Homo sapiens: one gene and its partners. The protein of the gene in region 2 interacts with the protein of the main gene of each other region in a biochemical or structural test. Each region holds a gene or a part of one and is shown on either strand. Other genes may lie near its edges.

What was found. The genes of interacting proteins can lie anywhere in the genome.
Region 1: the proteins of ERBIN (region 2) and CNTNAP2 interact in a test that uses a peptide from one of them, tested with the Homo sapiens proteins (one large-scale study listed by IntAct).
Region 3: the proteins of ERBIN (region 2) and PLCB4 interact in a test that uses a peptide from one of them, tested with the Homo sapiens proteins (one large-scale study listed by IntAct).
Region 4: the proteins of ERBIN (region 2) and MAP2K2 interact in a test that uses a peptide from one of them, tested with the Homo sapiens proteins (one large-scale study listed by IntAct).

What each region holds. Positions count from the first base shown.
Region 1 is NC_000007.14:147,127,801-147,131,300, reverse strand, and holds part of CNTNAP2 (contactin-associated protein-like 2 precursor), read right to left. Parts: intron 2,609-3,500; coding exon 2,465-2,608; intron 1-2,464. UniProt on the Homo sapiens protein: Required for gap junction formation. Required, with CNTNAP1, for radial and longitudinal organization of myelinated axons.
Region 2 is NC_000005.10:65,929,575-65,933,074, forward strand, and holds part of ERBIN (erbin), read left to right. Parts: intron 1-3,500. UniProt on the Homo sapiens protein: Acts as an adapter for the receptor ERBB2, in epithelia. By binding the unphosphorylated 'Tyr-1248' of receptor ERBB2, it may contribute to stabilize this unphosphorylated state.
Region 3 is NC_000020.11:9,380,087-9,383,586, reverse strand, and holds part of PLCB4 (1-phosphatidylinositol 4,5-bisphosphate phosphodiesterase beta-4), read right to left. Parts: coding exon 3,425-3,500; intron 1-3,424. UniProt on the Homo sapiens protein: Activated phosphatidylinositol-specific phospholipase C enzymes catalyze the production of the second messenger molecules diacylglycerol (DAG) and inositol 1,4,5-trisphosphate (IP3) involved in G-protein coupled receptor signaling pathways.
Region 4 is NC_000019.10:4,103,623-4,107,122, forward strand, and holds part of MAP2K2 (dual specificity mitogen-activated protein kinase kinase 2), read right to left. Parts: intron 1-3,500. UniProt on the Homo sapiens protein: Catalyzes the concomitant phosphorylation of a threonine and a tyrosine residue in a Thr-Glu-Tyr sequence located in MAP kinases. Activates the ERK1 and ERK2 MAP kinases.

The DNA.
Region 1 (3,500 bases), on a different chromosome or scaffold from region 2:
TCTCTCTTTTTCTCTATATATTTTTAACAACACCATATATATGTATATGGTATATGTATATGGTATACATGTGTATGGTATATGTATATGTATATGGTATACATGTGTATGGTATATGTATATGTATATGGTACATATATATGTATATGGTACATGTATATGTATATGGTATATATATGTATATGGTATATATATGTGTGTGTATATATACACATATATACATATATATACACACATATATATACACATATATATATGTGTATATATATATATACCTGATGCTGATTTCTTCCATTTTAGCACAATAACCATTAAATCTAAGGCAGGCAGTCTCTCTGAATTAATATTCAAATTAAATTTGCTCTGTACCATCACAGATGATTATTTTTAAATGCTCGCTTTTACTGATAAAAAGAACTGCCTATGCATAATAATTGAGATTTTATAACTGACCACATACCTCTTTTGAGGGGATTGTCTCCCTAGCAAAATTAAAGATCCTTCCAGAGTAACGGTGCTGACTTTGGAGTCAATGCATAATGAGGGAATGAGTATGTGGGGGAAGAGGAGGTAGAATGAGTGCTCAGTCAATTTCACTGAAATACCAGCACCCAACATCTTTGAAAGTACATTTCTTATATAAACACTTGTCTTTGCAGGGTTGCTTGCAAAATGTCCTATTTGTCTCTATCCCATCTAAGATTTTCTGTATGTATGTATATTTTGATTCAAAAGTTTATTCTATGTTTTCTCACTGCAATTATTTGTTAAAATAAAATGTAATTATAGAGCATAATCAAACTCACATATTGTGAATCCATAATCTTTTTTTATTCTTTTATTTTTGGGGGGACAGAGTCTCAGTCTGTTGCCCAGGCTGGAATGCAGTAGTTCAATCATGGCTCACTGCAGCCTCAAACTTGTGGGCTCAAGTGATCCTCCTACCTCAGCCTCTCAAGCAGCTAGGACTACATGCATGCACCATTATGCCCAGCTAATTTTTTAATTCAATTTGATTTATTTTTTTAATTTTAATTTTCTTAACTTGTTGTAGAGACATGGTCTCACTATGTTGCCCAGGCTGGTCTCAAACTCCTGGACTCAAGTGATCCTCCTGCCTTGGCCTCCCACAGTGTTGGGATTACAGCAGCAACCCACTATACCAGGCTATACATCTATCTTTTTATCTCCTACTCATAAAATAAAAGTTATTTTTCTCATAAAATAACTTATTTTTTCCATGTTAAATCGCAATGTTTTCATCTACAAAATGTTTGTATCCTTCTTGCAGTATTGTTCTCAGATCATCCTAAATATAAAATACGACTTGCCTAGCACAATACCTGTTGCCTATAAATGGAGCTATTATTATTTTTCCATAGTCAATATACTTTATGAGAAAATTTAACCAAAGTTCAAGTTTTAATTTCTAGTATAAATTTATGATTACTTTAAGAAAATTATTTATTAAATAATCATTTGCATGAAGTTATTGTTTTAAACCTTCCATATTCAACCTGAACTGTTTATTCATTCAGGGATTTCCATTTGTCAAATCATTTTATGAAACCCTGGGCTCAAATTTGAGGCAACGAGACCATCAGAGCTCTTTTGGAGCACAGTGCAAACACTCATGACATTATTGTACTTATAGTGCATAATATCTTCTTATTGTATGGGTCTCTGGAATTCTAAGCTCTCCCAAATAGCCTCTCTGGGCTAAAGCAGCTCCTGGTCTTGCAGAGCCATAGGGAACTCTCATACTAAAATTGCAAACTAAGTGTCTTTTAGGGATGTGGAGTAGTGTCGTTTGGAAGCATGTGTGCTGGGGCTTTCTTTGACTTTTGCTCTCCTTCCAAAATCTAATGAAACCTGGCACCAACTCACACAAAAGGCAGAAAAAAATCACTGTGAACTTCTGTGGCACAGCTTTGGCTATGCAGTGGAAATCAAGCTTTATTTAACTGTGTAATATTTAGTCTGGTTAGAGATTTGCTAAAAAGTGTATTTATTTACATATTCAAACAAATCATCTTTGGAAGCACAGGAGTAAATATAATAAAGTCCCTGATTTAAAAACTTTAAAAATATTAAATTAAACCATAAGCAAGTAACTTAGAGCACATGTGATGAGATATTTGAAAACACGATGCTGCCGGTTTAAGGGCTGCTAACTGCTGGGATGAAGCACGTGCCACGAGTCATCCAGAAATATTGAGTCTAACATTCTGTGCTCCGTGGGAATAAAACCAACCACCTACTTCAAGCTAGTCCCATTAGCTATTCTCAAAGAATAGCAAGTATCTATACTAATTCTGATAACTCTAATGTTTGTTTTACATCATTTTGCCCAAACACAAATATGATGAAAAATGTCATGATTTTGTTGTTGTTCAATAATCCAAAAAACAAAAATGTTACTTGATATTTTATAGACCAATATTTTGCGGGTGAAAATCCTTACCACATTTGAGGGCTCTAATTTCTTCCTTCTGGCAAGATCAGTAATGTTGACGCCATTGTAGTTGATGCTTTCCATGCAGCCTTTGAAATTCTTTCTACTGCTGGAGCTGGGCTTGCCAGAGAAAGGGATGCCTCCAAAGGTTATCTTTGAGAAAAAGAAATTAAATGTAAACGTCCACATTGTATTATGATGAACTAGACAAAACTATGAATACAGTGAAGGTCAAGTATCTATACCTCAACCAAAATATACAAATATTATAGCATTCTGCCTCCAAAATCTATGGCATATTAAATTATGTTGTTGTTGAAGTGTCTAATGGAGTCATTCATTCTGATAATTAGATTATAACTTGAACAAAAAAAAGCAATGATCCTTTGCAATTTTACTGCCCCAAAGGCATTTTATAAATTTTCTTGAGAATATTTTAAAAGATTTTTATTCAGCAAACTTCTTGTATCAAATAATATTAGAAATATATTTTTATGTTTATCATTCAAAGACATACTATCAATAAATGCCTCCAGTAAGCATGAGATAATCAGCACTAATTTAATAAGCTGATAAAACTGCAGCCCAAAGCAAGGGATATCGTATTTACCCTATGCAGACTTGTAGTCTAATGACCATTATTGTCAAAAATTCATTAGATTTATTTTGGATGTAGAAAATAGTTCAAAAAATATCATTACAATATTGATTAGGGACCACTTAGGATTTGGGAACTCAAAGTTGAGCTGTGTAGGCTTAAAGATATTATAGGTCTTTTAAATCTTAAGAAATAAGACAATGCTACTTACTGTGTTTCTCTGGCTGCTATCGCTTATAGAAAGAAAATATCCATTTCTTATACATTTTTGATCAATATACACTATAGCATTAAATTTATATGATACAAAATTGCATTTAGTATTTGCATGGTCAAGGATGATATTTACTATGAATAGTGAATTAGTAGTAAATGAAGCCAACCGCTAATTATAATATCAAGATATACAATACTTGTAATATATATCTTTTAAATTATCATACAATA
Region 2 (3,500 bases):
GTTTTCTTTTTCTGGGAATACATCTCTATTATAAACCTCTAAAGATGTCTTTGTCTTTTCCTCTTTTTTTTTTTTTTTTTTTTCGAGATGGAGTCTTGCTCTGTTGCCTAGGCTGGAGTGCAGTGGCACAATCTCGACTCACCACAACCTCCACCTCCCGGGTTCCAGCGATTCTCCTGCTTCAGCCTCCCAAGTAGCTGGGATTACAAGCGCACATCATCATGCCTAGCTAATTTTTGTATTTTTAGTAGAGACAGGTTTTGCCATGTTGGCCAGGCTGGTCTCGAACTCCCGACCTCAGGTGATCTGCCCACCTTGGCCTACCGAAGTGCTGGGATTACAGGTGTGAGCCACTGAGCCCGGCCTACTGCTAACTCCCATTTTTCAGATTCACTTTTTAGCTGTCTCTTCTTAGGTTTCCTAATTGTAAAAAAGAAACTTAGCTGCTATTCAGCTTTCTCTTCTGATTCCCTTAGCTTCCTATATTTATAGTTAGCTTCATTTACCTAGCCTTATTTTCTCTGTGTTCAGTTGGTCGTTCTTAATTATATTTTGCCATTTCCCTCTTTTCCAAACTGTTAGTCTATGTTTATCACCTCAAAAAACTGTTCAAAACATGCAGTGGAAAAAGTTTATCTGATCTTATTTTATTAGCCCATTTAATTCTGAATATCCCCTTTGCATTTCAACTAAGTGTACATGCTGGTATTTTAACTTTATATTCATCAGTATATTGCTTTGTTTATTTTGAGATGGAGTCTTGCTCTGTCGCCCAGGCTGGAGTGCAGTGGCAAGATTTTGGCCCACTGCAAGCTGCGCCTCCCCCAGGTTCACGCCATTCTCCTGCCTCAGCCTCCCGAGTAGCTGGGACTAGAGGCGCCCGCCACTGTGCCCGGCTAATTTTTTTGTATTTTTAGTAGAGACGCGGTTTCACCGTGTTAGCCAGGATGGTCTTTATCTCCTGACCTCGTGATCTGCCCACCTCGGCCTCTCAAAGTGCTGGGATTACAGGCATGAGCCACCGCTCCCGGCCATTGTTTGTTTTATACTTTGTTTTCTCAGTTTTCCTTTTTCTCTTTAGTGTTCTTAAAATTGACTGTTAAGATAATACCAGGTTGTTATTTATTCTTATGTATTAAGACTTTGTAACCCTCTCTACCTTCTTGTTTTATTATACTTTTGGCCTCTTAAAACATACAGATATATTTCTCTGTTCCTTCTTCTCTGTACCTTCCTCTTCTGTCCTACCTTTCAAGTTAGATGTCTTCTCTGACACAGAATCCCTAAAATTTTGAAATTATCTTTCTTTGATTTCATGAAATAAGCACAATAGTACTCTATCACTCTATTTTTGTCACTTCAAATTTTGTTCCAGACACCATTGAATGAAGGTCTTGCCAGGCTTTAAGTGATAGTGTGGAAGACGATAGAAAAGGAGAATATCTAAAAATTCACTTTGTGGAAGACGATAGAAAAGGAGAATATCTAAAAATTCACTTAATAAGACTCTACTTATCTGGAGGTTATTTATTATAGCTTTAAAAGCATATTGAATGTAGTAGAAAAACTAGAAAATAAAAAATGACATCTCCTTAATCACAACAGGTATGACAGAGTCTGGGGACTTCACTTTTAGGGCCATTATTATTCAGAGCCCATTTACTTATGTACATAATGAGCTGTTTTTGGTTCTTTGGTATCCCAGAAGGCGTGAGAAAGGTACGTTTACAGCATTGTGAAGTTATGACCTGTGGTGTTACAGTGAAGCAATAGAAAAATGGAAAGATGACTGAATAACTTAGAAAATAATCTGGGACAACTTACTTTGAGGCTAAGTGCCTTGTACATTTCATTTCCCTGTAGGAGGATTCACTCTGTTATAATATGGTATAATTACAAGAAATAGTAATAGTCCTAAGGCAGCTGTTCTCAGACTTTTTGGTTTGACTCAAAACAGAAATTAAAAAAAATTAATTTATTTGAAAATAAGCTATTGCATGTTAGTGTAACATTGTTTTAATAAAAATATAATTGTTTTCTAAAATAAATAGCAAAAATAGTGGCAATGTTTTATATTTTTGCAAGTCTCTTATGTTTGGCTTAATAGAAAACAGCTCGATTCTCATATCTGCTTCTTCACTCCATCTGTTACAGTATGTTCTTTTGGCTAAAGTATATGAAGAAAATCCAGCCTTATACAGGTATTTGGTTGGAAAAGGGAGGAAGATTTTCTTTCTTTTCTTTCTTTTTTTTTTTTTTTTTGAGATGGAGTTTGCTCTTGTTGCCCAGACTGGAGTGCAGTGGTGCAGTCTCGGCTCACCGCAGCCTCTGCCTCCCGGGTTTAAGCGATTCTCTTGCCTCAGCCTCCTGAGTAGCTGGGATTACAGGCATGCGCCACCATGTCCAGCTAATTTTGTATTTTTTGTAGAGACAGGGTTTCTCCACGTTGGTCAGGCTGGTCTTGAACTCCTGACCTCAGGTGATCTGCCCGCCTCGGCCTCCCAAAGTGCTGGGATTACAGGCGTGAGCCACCGCGCAAAGTGCTGGTCACAAGGTCAGGAGATCAAGACCATGGACAACACAGTGAAACCCTGTCTCTACTAAAATACAAAAAATTAGCTCGGTGTGGTCACAAACGCCTGTAATCCCAGCTACTCAGGAGGCTGAGGCAGGAGAATTGCCTGAACTCGGGAGGTGGAGGTTGCAGTGAGCCGAGATCGCGCCACTGCATTCCAGCCTGGCGACAGAGCAAGACTCCGTCTCAAAAAAAAAAAAAAAAAAAGACATAAACCTGGGAATATGTAGTGGTACTATTGCAGCTTGAAGGCATTGCCTTTGTTCTTGTAAAGGTGTTAGCTGTTGCAACCATTGCTTTTGCAACATCAGTGTAAAATGTAAATATAATGGAAAAGGGAAAAATGACATTTCAATATTATAAACACAGTTTTGACCTGGAAGGTTCCTTGAAAGTGTCTCAGGGACTTCCAGAGACTGTGGACTTCCAGGGCCTATGGACTGCACTTCAAGAACTTAGGTGGAAGTTGGGATTTATGGAACTTTCATTAATTAAATTTTTTTTCTTGTCTGTTCGTATTGGATTCTGGGAGAGTGTTGAAGCTTGATCTTTAAGCCCACTTACTTGATTTTCATTTGTTTTCAGTTATTTTGTTACTTGTTTTTGGAACAGAGTTTCTAAGAATTCTAGTTTTTCATAGGAGTTATTTTTGTTTTTATTTTTTTGAGACAGGATCTCACTGTGTTGCCCAGGCTGGAGTGCAGTGGCATACTCACGGCTCACTGCAGCCTCGGACTCCTGGGCTCAAGCTATCCTGTCACCTCACCTTCAGCCGAGACTATAGGCATGCACCACCATGCCCGGCTAATGTTTTATTTTTTTTTGTAGAGATGGGTTCTTGCTCTGTTGTTCAGGCTGGTCTTGAACTCCTGGCCTCAAGCAGTCCTCCCTCCTTGGTCTCCCAAAGTGCTGGGATTATGGCATG
Region 3 (3,500 bases), on a different chromosome or scaffold from region 2:
GCCCCAAAAGCCACCCTTCATTTCGATCACACCTTTCTGACATGGGGTAGAGCCCACGTGGTAACTACAGGAGCAACAATCAGTATTTATGCAACTTATAAATGGTTGATGCATCGACAGCTTCAAGTTTTTGTTTTATTTAAGAACTTGCAAGTTATGAACTGATTTCAAGCTAATACAGAAGTGTTCAGATGATAGCATAATGAATAGCCACGGGCCTACACCAGTGTGGTCAGATCTCAACATTTTGCCTTATTTGATTTACATTTTTGATTATTTGACTTACATGTAAAAGAATACATAATTTCTGATGCCACTGCAGCATCCTGTATACCCCACCTCAATTCCATTCCATACCAGATAGATAACTAGTATCCTAGTTTTGGTGTTTACCTCCAAAATGGTTCTGCAACCTTACTACATATGCATTTATCCAAACAACGGGTAGTTTGGGCTGTTTTTAATTTTATGTAAAAACTATCCCACTGTGTGCATTTGCAACTTGCTATTTTTATCTTTATATACCAGCTATGTAGGTAGATCTTGTTCATTTATTTTTCACTGAAGGTACAGAAGTCCATATATGAATATATCATAATTTATTATCCATTATTTGGTTGATGGATAGTTAGGTCATTTCTAATTATAAATGAAAGTAGAAATTTGTATACCTCTTTCCTTGGGCACCTTCATTCATTCTAAAGAGCAAGTACTTTTAGAGGCACCAGGATAGATGCAGTGATAGAAGAAACAGGTAAGCCCTGCCTTCATGAAACTCTCATATTATGAGTGACAGAAACAAATAAGTAAACAAATAAATATAATGTCAAAGAGGTACTAGAAGGACAGAGAAAGCAGGGAGGAAGGTGATGAAGCATGGCAGGATGCTGTGTTAAATATGGGCCAGTGAAAGCCCTTCTGAGGTCACGTACATGTGTGAGGAGCAAGCCACGTGCACACCCAGGAAACACCAGTCCAGGCAGAAGGATCATCAAGTGCAAAGACCTTGATGCAGATGTATGCGTGCCAACATCATTCAATGACAGCAAGACAGAGCAAGTGACCAAGGAAAAAGGTAGCTTGAAGTGAGATTGGAGATGGAGCCAAAGGCTACATCACTTGGGCTTTAGTCCTCACTAAGTATTTTAGATTTTATTCTAAATGTGTTGGGAAGCCTTTGGAGGGTTTCAAAGGGTGGAATAACATGATTAGATTTGGTTTTAAAAGGTTTACTCTGGCTGCTGTGTGGACCATAAATTGTAGGGCACTGAGTAGGAAGGAGAAGGCATTGCCTGGAGAGGGATGATGAAGGTTTGGATAGTCAGTAATGTTGGAGATGGTGAGAAGTGATTTATTTAGGATTTCTTTTGAGGCTGGATCTTACAGGTTTTGCAAATGAACCAGACATGATGTGAAAGAATGAAACAAGTCCAACATGAGCCCAGTGGTTTTGACTGGGTAAATAACGGTACTATTTTATAGGCTTTGAAAGGAACATATCTAGGGGTAGGAAGGATCGAAATATGTTGTATATATACATTGGAAATGCCCATTCAACATCCAGATGGAGAGTTCTACTACAAGTCTGTAGTGTAAGCTGGAGGTTAGGACTGGAGAGTTTAATAGAAGAAATGTAAAGCCATTGGCTTGGATGAGCTCAGGTACAGAGTGAATATAGGTGGAGCAGAGATCTGAGAACTGTGCCGCTCTGGTATCCAGAGTTTGGGAAATAGATGAGAGATTCTCTAGGGTACATACCTAGAAGTGAAAATGCTGGGCTGTATAAGAGGCATATTTTTCACTTTATAAACTATTGCCAAAATATTCCCCAAGATGGTTGTACCAATGTAGGGTCTTACCAGAAGTTTATAAGAATGGCTTTGTACTCCATTCTCACCCACACTTGAAAATGACAGACGTTAAAATTTCCATCACTTGTGAAATGGTCAAGCTACCCTTTTTAGATGTGTCAATGGTCACTTCATAGACCTTTAAAACTTAGAAGGAATTTGGAAATAAACAAGGACACACCTCAATCATGACATTTATCACACTGCCAAGGAATTGTTGAATCACTTGTCTTTCTCCTTGAACAGATCGCAACTGCCTTCAAGGCTGGGGACATTTCTTATTGTTTTGAATTCCTAGCATCTGGCACAGTGCTTGGCACCCGGTCAGCCCTCTACAAACTTCAAAGAATGAAGGTAGGGAAGGGAAATACTAGCCAAATTACTGCATGAGCCCCACCACCTTACAAGCAGGGAAACTGAGGCCCAGGAGGCCAGTTCCTAGCTCAAGGTCACAGGGAAGTGACAAGAATCATATCACCTCCTGCCAATGCGAAGTGTTAGATTTTCTACCAAGCTGTACCTCCCTTTGCTGTAATCATAAGCAATGTGAAATAAATTATGATATTCAGAATATTGACAGAGAGGGAAGGAATGAAGCATTCTTGCTTAAAATAGGTATCTTCAGCCATAGCAGAAAGTGTAAACTGTACAACTACAACTAAAGGGAAAACTATTGGGCTTGGAAAAATATCAGGGGTGAAATCATGGAGTGTAGAGGGCCAGGTATACCTAAAAAGAGGGTCCAGATAACATACAGACCATTCAACCACACTCACTGGCATTAGATACAAAGAAAAAAATAGATTTTAAAAAGGAGGAAACTGAGACCTTGAGATTCACGGACATACGGGACCTATGGAACTTGAACTTTCATCTCTTTACATTCTCCACTGAGACATAACGCCAAAGGCTCTAGCTCAGGTACCCCCAGCTCTCCCTCCCATGTTCCGCAGGCATTTCTCACTGCTGTGGGACTGATTTTAAAATTTCTCCCCATGCCTTTCCTTTGACAAATATTTGTGCGAACAACCCTTTGTTTCCAAAGCTTCTTTGAAAGGGACAAAGGTCCAGCAATTAGCTAAGGCGATTCCTGACTATTTAATTTCATATCAATTGTATTTATCTTTCATACCAGAGGTCAAATGAGGGTTACTGCACATCAAATCACGTATTAAATTTATTTGGCTTGGCAAAACAAAAGGGAGAAAAAGAAAAGGTATAAGTTTTTATATGACAAAAATTATTTTCAAGGATTGCAAGTAGAGACTGTATTGGTTGTTTTAATATTTCAAGCAATATGCAATACTAAAATCTAATACAAGAAAGTACATGGGGAAACATCACTATAATGTATTTAATAATACAATAAATGTAACAGTATACTTCAGTCAGGATTGACTAATTCTGATGAAAGGTAAAATTTATACGAACTTAAGAGCAGGAAAAAAAAATAGTCATCAATCCATGGCTCAGGGAGTTGCAAAGCATTTACAGATACCTTTAAATAAACCAAGGCTTTAAAAGTTGCATCTTTTCTTGTTTTTTTTTTTAAGTCCTTTTTTCATGTTTATTACCTTTTTTCTTCAAATCTTCATCAGGTTCATACATCTCAATGATCTGCATTGCCCTTTTGGCATCATAAAATGGAAA
Region 4 (3,500 bases), on a different chromosome or scaffold from region 2:
GGCTTTCATTCACATGGGTGGGAGGAGCCGGGGGAGAAATCCTGGGACTCAGGGGTGCCCGGGTTGCCGCTCTCTGGCCACTTCTGCCCAGCTAGGCTTGGAGAGAAAGGCCGAAGGCAGTTCTAGAAAACCCAACACGCTTTGAGACCTCTAAAGCATACACGTGACTCCATCCACCAGCTCCAGGCTGAAGACGCAGACACACAGGGTGAGAGGGCAGGTATGGCCAGGGCTCAGACAGCCCAGGAGGAGGTGCCAGGACGGGAGCTCCAGTGAGCCAGGGCCAGGTGGAAGCTGCTTCTATTCTCAGTTTTTATCAATCTACCTTAAAAGAATTACTTAAAATGAGGCCGGACATGGGCTGGGAGCGGTGACTCACGCCTGTAATGCCAGGACTTTGGGAGGCTGAGGCAGGCGGATCACTTGAGGTCAGGAGTTTGAGACCAGCCTGGCCAATATGGTAAAACCCCATCTCCACTAAAAATAAAAAAAATTAGCTGGGCGTGGTGGTGGATGCCTGTAATCTCAGCTACTCGGGAGGCTGAGGCAGGAAGATCACTTGAACCTGGGAGGCAGAGGTTGCTGTGAGTCGAGATCGTGCCACTTCTCTCTCGCCTGGGCGAGAGAGCAAGACTCCTCAATTAAAAAAAAAAAAAAAAAAAGCCGCACGTGGTGGCGCACACCTATAATCCTACCACTTTGGGAGGCCAAAGCAAAAAGAATGCTTGAGCTGAGGAGTTTGAGACCATCCCGAGCCACACAGTGAGACCCCATACCAAAATCAGCCGGGCGTGGTGGTGCACGCCTGTAGTCCCAGCTACTCAGAAGGCTGAGGTGGGAGGATCCCTTGAACCTGGGAGGTCAAGGTTGCAGTGAGCCGAGATCACACCACTGCACTCCAGCCTGGGTGACAGAGCAAGACCCTGTCTCAAAAAAACAAAAACCAGAAAGAGACCAACGACTCGAAAGAGGCAGGGTGGCGAAAACCAAACAGACGCACCAAACGCAACCCTAAAACCCCTGCTCCCCAGCACAGCTCCTTCCGTCTTCGTTTCTCCTGGGGCCGCAATCAATGTTTGTTTAGTGAGAAAATTCAAAGAGCCTCTCCCCGGAGATGAGGGCGGGCGGAGCGCTGTGCTGCAGCCTCAGGAGCTGGTGGAAGACGCCTCACAGGAGCATCGCTCTCTCTGCAGCCGCCTTTCTCCACTGTGACATCGGGGCCAGGTCACTCTCTGGGGTGGGGCCGACCTGGGCACTGCAGGGCGCTGAGTAGCGTCCCTGGCCTCCATCCACTCCACGCCAGGAGCATCCCCCAGTTGTGACAACCACACACATCCCCAGACAGTGCCAGGTGTCTCCTGGGAGGGAGAACTGCCCCTGGTTGAGAAGGGCTGATCTCCAGCTATAAAGACCAAAGTCTGGCAGGGTAAGCAATTTGTCTGAGTCACAGAGACAGGATGTGGTGCAGGGGGTATTGCAGCTGTGTACTGCTGACCCCAAATCTCACTCTGTGCATGACCATACACGTCTACCGTGTGTGTGTGTGTGTGTGTGTGTGTGTGTGTGTGTGTGTGTGTGTGTGATGTTTAAAATGGTCTTGTAACTGTAATTTTGTTACGTAGGTAGTAGGTGAACACATTTTTCTTTCTTTTTTTTTTTTTCCTGAGGCGGAGTCTCGCTCTGTTGCCCAGGCGGGGGTGCAGTGGCACCATCTCGGCTCACTGCAAGCTCCGCCTCCCGGGTTCACGCCATTCTCCTGCCTCAGCCTCCTGAGTAGCTGGGACTACAGGTGCCCGCCACCACACTCGGCTAATTTTTTGTATTTTTAGTAGAGATGGGGTTTCACTACTGGTGTTAGCCAGGATGGTCTCGATCTCCTGACCTCGTGATCCGCCCGCCTCGGCCTCCCAAAGTGCTGGGATTACAGGCTTGAGCCACCGCACCCGGCAAACACATTTTTCTTATAAAAAATTCAAATGAGGATAAATAACCTGGACGCCGCATCACTTCCACCATTCCCCCCTCAAGTGTGACTTATATTGTTCCAGATCTTTCTTCATCTCTCTCTTTCTTTCTTTCAGGCAGGGGTCGCCCAGACTGCAGCATAGTGCTGTGATCTTGGCTCACTGCAGCCTCCACCTCCTTGGTTCAGGCAGTCCTCCCACCTCAGCTTCCCAAGTAGCTGGGAGTACAGGCGCGCCACCATGTCCTGCTAATTTTTTGTAGAGACGGGGGTTCCTCATGTTGCCCAGGCTGCTCTCGAAGTCCTGGCTGAAGAGGTCCTCCCACTTCAGCCTCCCAAAGTGCTGGGATCACAGGAGTGAGCACCTGGCCCCCGCATCTTGCTGTGTATTTGGAAACACAGACTCGGGACTCACTCTCTTGCCCAGGCTGTAGAGCAGTGGCTCAATCATAGCTCACTGCAGCCTCGACCTACTGGGCTCATGGGATTCTCCCAAAGCACTGGGATTAAAGCATGCTTGCCCAGCCAGAGTTTAAAACAACATCGAAATGGGCTCATGTCTGTAATCCCAGCACTTTGGGAGGCCGAGGCAGGAGGGTCACTTGTGGCCAGGAGTTCAAGACCAGTCTGGGCAATATGGAGAGACCCTATCTCTACACAAATAAGCAAATAAATTAGCTGTGCATGGTGGCTCACGCCTGTGGTCTCAACTACTCGGGAGGCTGACGTGGGAGGACAGCACCAGTACACTCCAGGCTGGACAACTGAGCAAGACCCTGACTTGAAAATACAATAAACAAATGAATGGGCCAATGCTATGTTTATTTTATTTTTCTTTTATTTTGAAATGGAGTCTTGCTGTCGCCAGGCTGGAGTGCAGTGGCATGATCTCGGCTCACTGCAACCTCCGCCTCCCGGGTGCATGTGATTCTCCTGCCTCAGCCTCCTGAGGAGCTGGGACTACAGGCGTGCGCCACCATGCCCAGCTAATTTTGTATTTTTAGTATAGATGGGGTTTCACCATGTTGGCCAGGATGGTCTTGAACTCTTGACCTCGTGATCCGCCTGCCTTGGCCTCCCAAAGTGCTAGGATTACAAACGTGAGCCACTGCACCCAGCCCATGCTATGTTTATTTTCTACAACCACCCCTCCACTACATGAATAGTGTTGTACTGTGGGGATACTCCCATTCAGTACACCATTGTGGATTTCACTTTGCCACTGCAAAGCAGCCAAATATCATTCTTTAATCACTCCCTTACTGATGGACATGTCCAGTTTCCATTACAGTAGAACAAGACGGGCATTCTTCAGCAGATAGGACGAGACCCCCAGAAAGGCCAAGGGGCACCTCTACGAGGTCCGTAAGCCACTGGCTCTCCTTTCCCCATCCCATGAGGCCCCACTGTCCACTGGGTTCTTGCCCCGAGTTATCCAGTAATAGGTTCAGACCCCAGGGAAGCAGCCAGCCCCACTGTTCCTAAGTTCCAGTCACCAACAAGTGCTTGCCATTTTATATAAATACATCACTGGGCA